Linked DNA regions of Homo sapiens. The protein of the gene in region 1 interacts with the protein of each later gene in a biochemical or structural test. Each region holds a gene or a part of one and is shown in the gene's direction. Other genes may lie near its edges. The genes, in order: VAPA and ZFYVE27.

Region 1 (3,821 bases):
TTTAAAAGACATGCTTATTCTTAAGATTGAAATAAAGAAAAGAGAGCCTTTATAATAGTTGTCTTTGATTCCAGCCTTCTAGCTTTTTTAAAAAATACATAACTTTAAACGAATTGTTTTTAGAACGATTTAAAATTACTTTTGGAATACTTAGAACTGTGGTTATTGTTCCCAACTGGAACATGTTTTTATGTTCTTCCTCCAAATTAACAGGTATTTATTTTGTTGTCTAAATTAATCTGCATAATTTTTCTTCAGGCTTTTCTTCAGCAAAATGGATCAGCCTTTTGGGTTCTTTGTTTTGTAATTTTATGTTGTTTGGGTGCAGAACCAAAGCTTAAAAACTTTGTATCTAGAGCATATGGCATAATAAACACTTAACAAATATGTGAATGAATGAATGGATTGAATGAATGAACAAACAAAATTGAGGTGAAGCAAAAGCACTGATGTCATAGGGTGTAGGGTCTTCAGATGTAGAGATTTTTGCAGTTGGCCTAGTAAAATGAACTTGAAGATTGACACTGGTTTGCAGACAACTGGGAAATTCTGTTATTTTCAGCAACGTATTAACAACATACTGTAAAAATACAGTTGTAAAGTTCATAGATCCAAAGTTTCATAGTACTTTTTTGATAGAAATCATACATGTTTATGGTAGAAATTTTGTGAAATACAGGGAATGAAGAAGAAAATATGACTTGTTTTTAAGTCTGCCACCTCGAGAAAGGCAGTGTTAGTAGCCATTTGGGATATTTATGCCTACAAATGTCAGCACTTAATTAAAATTGAGGTTATATATTTTCAGTTTTGAATCCTTCGTTGTTGAGAATCCAATTAAATTTTGTTTTCTCTTTAATTTTTAAACTTTACAGGCCCCTTCACAGATGTAGTCACTACAAATCTTAAATTGCGAAATCCATCGGATAGAAAAGTGTGTTTCAAAGTGAAGACTACAGCACCTCGCCGGTACTGTGTGAGGCCCAACAGTGGAATTATTGACCCAGGGTCAACTGTGACTGTTTCAGGTAGCAAATCATGTTCTGAATTTATGTACATTTGAATTTTGACCTTTTATGATTATGTTTTTGTTTAATAAGGTTTCATCTGGAGGGAGGGAAATAATTCTTATATTATTCTGGTTTTGCCTTTAAAGATGTCTTGTTACAGTACTCTGCAAGCTGTTTCAGAAAATTTCTCACTCATCTTCTGTGTAGGGAGTGTGGTCAGTTTATAAGAAATTATTGTCAATTACAAACTTTAGTCTTTATTTCTACAGCTAACCACTACCTTCTCTGCCTTTGTTATTTTATCTTTGAAAAATTATATCATTTTTCTGATGGGTCATTCTCCTTCAGATCATGATCATATTACACATTGCATGCAGCTATAGAAGTGTCATAATTCTTTTGCTTAAAAAGGTGCAATGCCACTTTTTTGCCTACTGTGTCAAATCAGATGAGTCTTTATGCCTTTCATTGTAAATGTCAACAGTGTCCTGTGTGTGAAAACTTTATTTTTATTTTACTACTCTCTTATGTGTTTACTTGTCAAAGAAGTATGCTTGCCATATATGGATTACTTACTCCTGCTGTGGAGTTGATACTGGTACCATATCTAATGCCCCCTATAAACTGTTTCTTTCTTTCTCAGTCCCTCTGACTTCACTAATATAGCTGAGAAATAGGAAATAGGAAGTAAATATGAGAACTTTTATGGTTCCATGTATTTTACTTAGGGGAGAACCTCTCAGGCTGCATTTACTCTTTCTTTACAGCAGTACTTCTCAACTCCCACTATATGCTGTAATAACACAGGGAGCAGGAACACACATGGATTCATCTCTCCCAGATTGGAATCTCTAGGAGCATGACTTAGAAATGTTACATTTAGGCCGGGCGCGGTGGCTTATGCCTGTAATCCCAGCACTTTGGGAGGCCGAGGCGGGTGGATCACGACGTCAGGAGTTCAAGACCAGCCTGGCCAAGATGGTGAAACCCCATCTCTACTAAAAATACAAAAAATTAGTCGGGTGTGGTGGTGGGCGCCTGTAGTCCCAGCTACTTGGGAGGCTGAGGCAGAGAATTGCTTAAAACCAGGAAGTGGAGGTTGCAGTGAGCGGAGACTGCACGAGTAAGACTCCGTCTCAAAACAAACAAACAAAAAAAGTGTACCTTAAAAAAAAAAAAAGCCTGGGTGATCTTGATAAGTAATCCTAAGATATTATAATAATTCTGTATCAGTTTTCAAGTCCACAGCAGAATTGGGTACAGAGAGAGAGAACCCAGGGTAGGCTCATTGAGAGAGTATTTAGAGGTGGAGCCTGACTACAAAGGCCATGAAGGACAGACCATAGAGTTCTTGGTGACACTAAATCTTCCCTCAGCAGGTATAGCCAAAAACCTCAAGAGCTAGGAAAAAGATGTTTTAGTGAGTCTTGCGGTAAGGAGGCCTGGGAGGAGTGCTTTTCATGTTTCTTTGCTAAGTCTAATTCATCAGTTCCTGGGAAAGAGAGATGGGAAATAAAGATGAAGGAATGCATGCACTCTGCATGTTGCTGCTTTCTACTACATCTTTAAGCCTTTAGCACAATTGGAAGAAGAGAGAATTCTTTCTTTTTTGAGACAGTGTCTTGCTTTGTTGCCCAGGTAGGAGAGCAGTGGTGTGATCTCAGGTGACTGCAACTTCCGCCTCCTGGATTCAAGTGATTTTCCTGCCTCAGCCACTTGAGTAGCTAGGATTACGGGCGTGTGCCAACATGCCTGGCTCATTTTTGTATTTTTAGTAGAGGCAGGGTTTCACCATGTTGGCCAGGCTGGTCTCGAACTCCTGACCTCAAGTGATCCATCTACCTTAGCCTCCCCAAATGCTGGGATTACAGGCGTGAGCCACTGCGCCTGGCCAGAAGATATAATTATTTCAATCCACATGGCTAAAAATAGTTTATTGGTACAAACAGTTATATCCCTAGGAATCCATACAACTATGCAGAATGACTTTTTCTTTGAGGGGCCTAGATTGCTGGTTTCTGTGTATTAATATTTCTTGAGAAAACAACGTATCAAAACACTTTCTCCCACAGAAACCTGACTTATTAAAACCTTCAGACAAACTGGTTACTGATTACGCAAACATGCCCTTGGATTGTTCTACTTAATTAGAATTTGGCTTTTCCAGTTTTTAGTGTAGTGTATTTCCATTTACAGTCACTCAAAGCTATGCTTCTTCCAACAACCTTCTCTGGTTAATTCTCTGTACTACATGCTCATTTCTCTTTTTCCCTGTGTCCTTTTGACGCTTTGTTTTTTGAATTTGCTTCAATTTGTGCACATTTTTATATATGTTTTCAAGATCGTCTTTGTCTTGTTATGTGGTCTGCAACCTAAATTAGAGTATAACTCCTATAAACTTAACCATGTTGTAAGTTTTCGTTTTATTCACAAATTTTTGGTTCATAGTGATTAGCTTATAATCATTAACTCAGTGAAGGTTGCTAATGGAATTTTATTTAGCTTAAGCTGTATTCTGAGGCATTTTATCCAGTACATTTCCTGCTGCTGTGTATTTGGCCCCTTGAAAAAGTTGTCTTAACCTTGATAGCAGTTAATGGACTTCTCAGACACACCTTATGAATAAGACTTTATTACATAATTATTTCTTACATTTATTTACCCGTGTTTATCTTTTTGAAAGTGTAGAGATATATCTTAGAAATAATCTAAAGTTAGGGAAATAATTTCTATAATGCCATGTACATATTTTGTGTAACTGTTGATTGATTCTTTGTATAGTCTGTTATATTGGACTCATGTTACATAAAT
Region 2 (3,821 bases), on another chromosome or scaffold:
TGGCCTTGAATTCCTGGGCTCTAGCAATCCTCCTGCTTCAGCCTCCCAAAGTGCTGGGACTACAGGTGTGAGCCAGTGTGGGTGTCCTAATAAAGTTCTTTGTATCAGTTTCCCTGATCTGGGATCCAATTCAGGATTATACATCATGTTTAATTTTTTTATGTCTCTTTAGTCTTCTTTAATCTGGAGCAGTTCCTCAGTCCTTGTTTCTTGTGACCTTGACATTTTTGAATAGTACAAGCTTATTATTTTGTAGAATCTCCCTAATTTTTGGATTGTTTGGTTCCTTGTGATCAGATTTAGAGTGTGACAAGTGATGTGTCATGTTCAGTACATCCGTATCAGGAGGCACCTGATGTCAGGAAATACTGACTTTGATCACTTGGTTAAGGCATCCATACTGTAAATTATCATTTTACTCTTCATTAGTAGTAATTTGAGGGGAGATACTTTGAGACTATGTAAATATCTTGTTCCTCATCAAACATTTATCCACTGCTTTAAAAATCCATTGATGGGTCTTGCCTTAATCAGTTTATTACTATGATGGTTGCAAAGATGATCTTCTAATTATTCTATCGACATTTTTTTAGCTGGCTTTCTACTATAAGGAAGCTCTTTCTTACTATTATCAGTATGAACTCATAGATTTATATTTTATTTGATGAGTTAGAATCTATTACTATCATTATTTATTTTGATCTCAAATTGTCCTAGATTTGGCCAGTAGGAGCTCTTTTGAGTTGGCTCTTGTTTGCATTGGTCCCTGTCATTTTTGAATGCTTCCTTTATGGTACAACAGGATGGTCAAATTCATCTTATACTTCCCTGCCCCAGCCCTGGAATCAGCTTATCTCCATGTTTCCTGGTTTCCCTTCAGAAACCCAGATCTGGGTTCAGATTGTGCTCATGGCTTCTGTGGTTCATCCATGTTTAAAAAAACAACAACCAGAACTCCCCAAGTGAGTCTGTTTCACATCCCAGGTAGAGAATATCATGCCATTTATTCTGACAGCTGCTGTGTACCCGTGAGGTGGGTCCTCTGATCCTCATTTTATAGATAAAGAAGCCACAGCCCTGGAGAATTTCAGTAGCCTGCCTGACATCAACAGTTAGAAGACCAAAGCAGGAACATTTATACTGTTTCCACCTCAGCAAGAGGCTCCAAAAAGGGGACTGAAATGTAGCTGGGGTGGCTTAGCCAGGCCTGTTTCTCCCATGCTCTCTCGACTCCTCTCTCTTTAAGCACATGGTGAGTGTGTTTAAAGAGATTGACCATCCCTAGCCAACTGTACCTGCAAGGCCCCAGGCTCCACTTCCCAGGGCTTCTGTCCTGCCCACTCACCAAAGCCCCTGTGTCTGTAGCTTGATCCAGCTGGAGGCCTTCCTGAGCCGCCTGTGCTGCACATGTGAAGCCGCCTACCGCGTGCTGCACTGGGAGAACCCCGTCGTGTCCTCACAGTGAGTGACCCCTCCTCTCCCGCCACCACCCTATAGGAATTTGCAGCTTGAGCCCGAGCAAAGCCAGCTGCCTTGAGAGGACCTCTGCCCCTCTTACCTCAGGGGAAGAGCTCGCCTCCTGGGCTCTTGTGTGTATATCTGCACATATGCTTGCGGGCTCTAATGTACTGCTTTTGTTTAGATGCTTGCTTTTATGTGTGGTAAAAATAATAATAGAAAAATAACTCACCATATAATCCACCATGCAGCCGAATCTCTTGTTTGTTTTGCCTGCTAGAATTTGTCACATGCATCTACTTTACGGATGTATAGTTTCATAGTGTATGTTCAATTTTTCTTTTGTTTTCCACTTATCATTATATTAAAGATGATTTTCTTTGTTGCTATATAGCTTTTGGAATTATTTATAATACCAGATTAATATAGATGGCAAATATAATTTGTGAAACCATTCTGTTACAGATTTAGTCAATTTCCCTTTTCATTACTAACCCCATGGTAAACATTTTTATGGATTTAGCTTTAATGTTTTAGAAAATTTTTCTTGGAGTAAATTCAAGGATGAAACTACCATATCAAACAGAATGGGTGTTTTTGAGGCTCTTTAATATGAATAATAGTGATAACTAATGTTTGTTGTGTTCACCTGGTGCCAGGCACTGCTCAACACTCCCTCTGTATTATCTCACTCTTATAGTAACTCTATTAGGTAGGCGCTACTTCAGTCCCCATCTTACACGGGAAGGGAGCTGTGCCCAGAGAACCAAGAGACTTCTCAGAATGAGAAGTGGCAGAGCTGGATTCAAATCCCAGTCTGTCTTACTCTAGACTTCAGAGTCTAGACCTTAAGGAGTGATGATGGTTGAACCAGTTTATGTGCCACCAGCTGACACCACTTTGGCCTCACCAGCATCAGGTGTTTGCACCGGTGACTTGGGATAGTTCTCAGTCTTCATCGCCATTTTCCGCTGGTTTGATGAGCGGCTCTTGTCAGTTTATTAATGTGCCCAGAGCTGTGTCTCACCTGGACCCTGCTGTGGGTGTGCTCCAAACCCGTCTCCTTCTGCTGTTACGAATTTCTGATCTTGTGGTTCTTCCCTGTCATCCAGGTTCTATGGGGCTCTTCTGGGCACAGTCTGCATGCTGTATTTGCTGCCACTCTGCTGGGTTCTCACCCTTTTAAACAGCACGCTCTTTCTGGGGAATGTGGAGTTCTTCCGAGGTAAGCCCTGAAGGGCCTGAAAGATGGGGCCCAAGCTGGCTCTGAGGGCTAGGCTAGGCTCCCCAGTTCTTCTGTCTCTACAGCTAATCATCAGTTTGCTGTGCTTCCACAAGTGCAACACCACACTGGGGTCCTCTCTCATGGGCTCTGCATCTCTGAGATGTTAGATGAAGCTGGAATCTCACCAGGGGAGGCTGCTACCATTGGGCTCCCATCTCCCTTCGCTCCCTTCCCAAGGCAGATGAATCACTGCTTATATGATATGATGGCTTCTGGAAGATGAGGGAAGGATGTTTTTCCCAAAGCTGCCACCCATCCCCTGGGGTGCAGCCACCTGGAGTTGCTACCACATCTCTGTGTGATCCCAGAATACCCCTCTGTTGTCTGGCTTCTAAAGCGCTGAGGCAGTCTGGAGAGGCACTGAGTCGCAGAGGCCCGAGTCTGTACATATGTTTGGGTGATTGCTGTATTTGTTTTCCTCCCTGTGGTAGAGTTATTTATTACAGAAGCCATGATTTATTGAGCATTTACTACATTTAATCTCTGTAGCTGTCTGGGGCAGGTGGTGGTATCTAAGTTTTGTTTAAGAGGCTTAAGTTAGGTGACTCGCTCAGAGTTAGGAGGGTGACTCTTTCCTGTAGTGAAGGGAAGAGAGGCCAGCCAGCTGCAGAAGTGGGTACCCCTAAAGTGCCACTCACGGTGTCTCATTTTTGCCTCCTACCTTGTTCTCCATTCCCTGGGTAGTTGTGTCTGAGTACAGGGCATCTCTGCAGCAGAGGATGAACCCAAAGCAGGAAGAGCATGCCTTTGAGAGTCCTCCACCACCAGATGTTGGGGGGAAGGATGGTCTGATGGACAGCACGCCTGCCCTCACACCCACGGAGGTAAGTGCCACTGTCAGGGCAGAGCCTGCTGTGGCCGCTTGTGGGCCCCCCTGTTATCAGCTTGTTTTTGGCTCCTGGGCTGGCCTCTGTTGTAGTTCCTGCTATTTCCCAGGCCTTAACTCCCCTGAAGTGTTCAATAATAATAATTGTAATAAAAACAGCTACTCCATGCTTCACTGAGTGCTTACCCTGTGTCAGATGCTGCTCCAAGTGCTTTATAGATAGATATTCACATCATGGAGTGCAGGTTCTTT

The links.
Region 2: the proteins of VAPA (region 1) and ZFYVE27 form a complex in vitro, tested with the Homo sapiens proteins (one study listed by IntAct).

What each region holds. Positions count from the first base shown.
Region 1 is NC_000018.10:9,930,935-9,934,755, forward strand, and holds part of VAPA (vesicle-associated membrane protein-associated protein A), read left to right. Parts: intron 1-875; coding exon 876-1,028; intron 1,029-3,821. UniProt on the Homo sapiens protein: Endoplasmic reticulum (ER)-anchored protein that mediates the formation of contact sites between the ER and endosomes via interaction with FFAT motif-containing proteins such as STARD3 or WDR44.
Region 2 is NC_000010.11:97,746,904-97,750,724, forward strand, and holds part of ZFYVE27 (protrudin), read left to right. Parts: intron 1-1,365; coding exon 1,366-1,461; intron 1,462-2,570; coding exon 2,571-2,683; intron 2,684-3,427; coding exon 3,428-3,567; intron 3,568-3,821. UniProt on the Homo sapiens protein: Key regulator of RAB11-dependent vesicular trafficking during neurite extension through polarized membrane transport. Promotes axonal elongation and contributes to the establishment of neuronal cell polarity.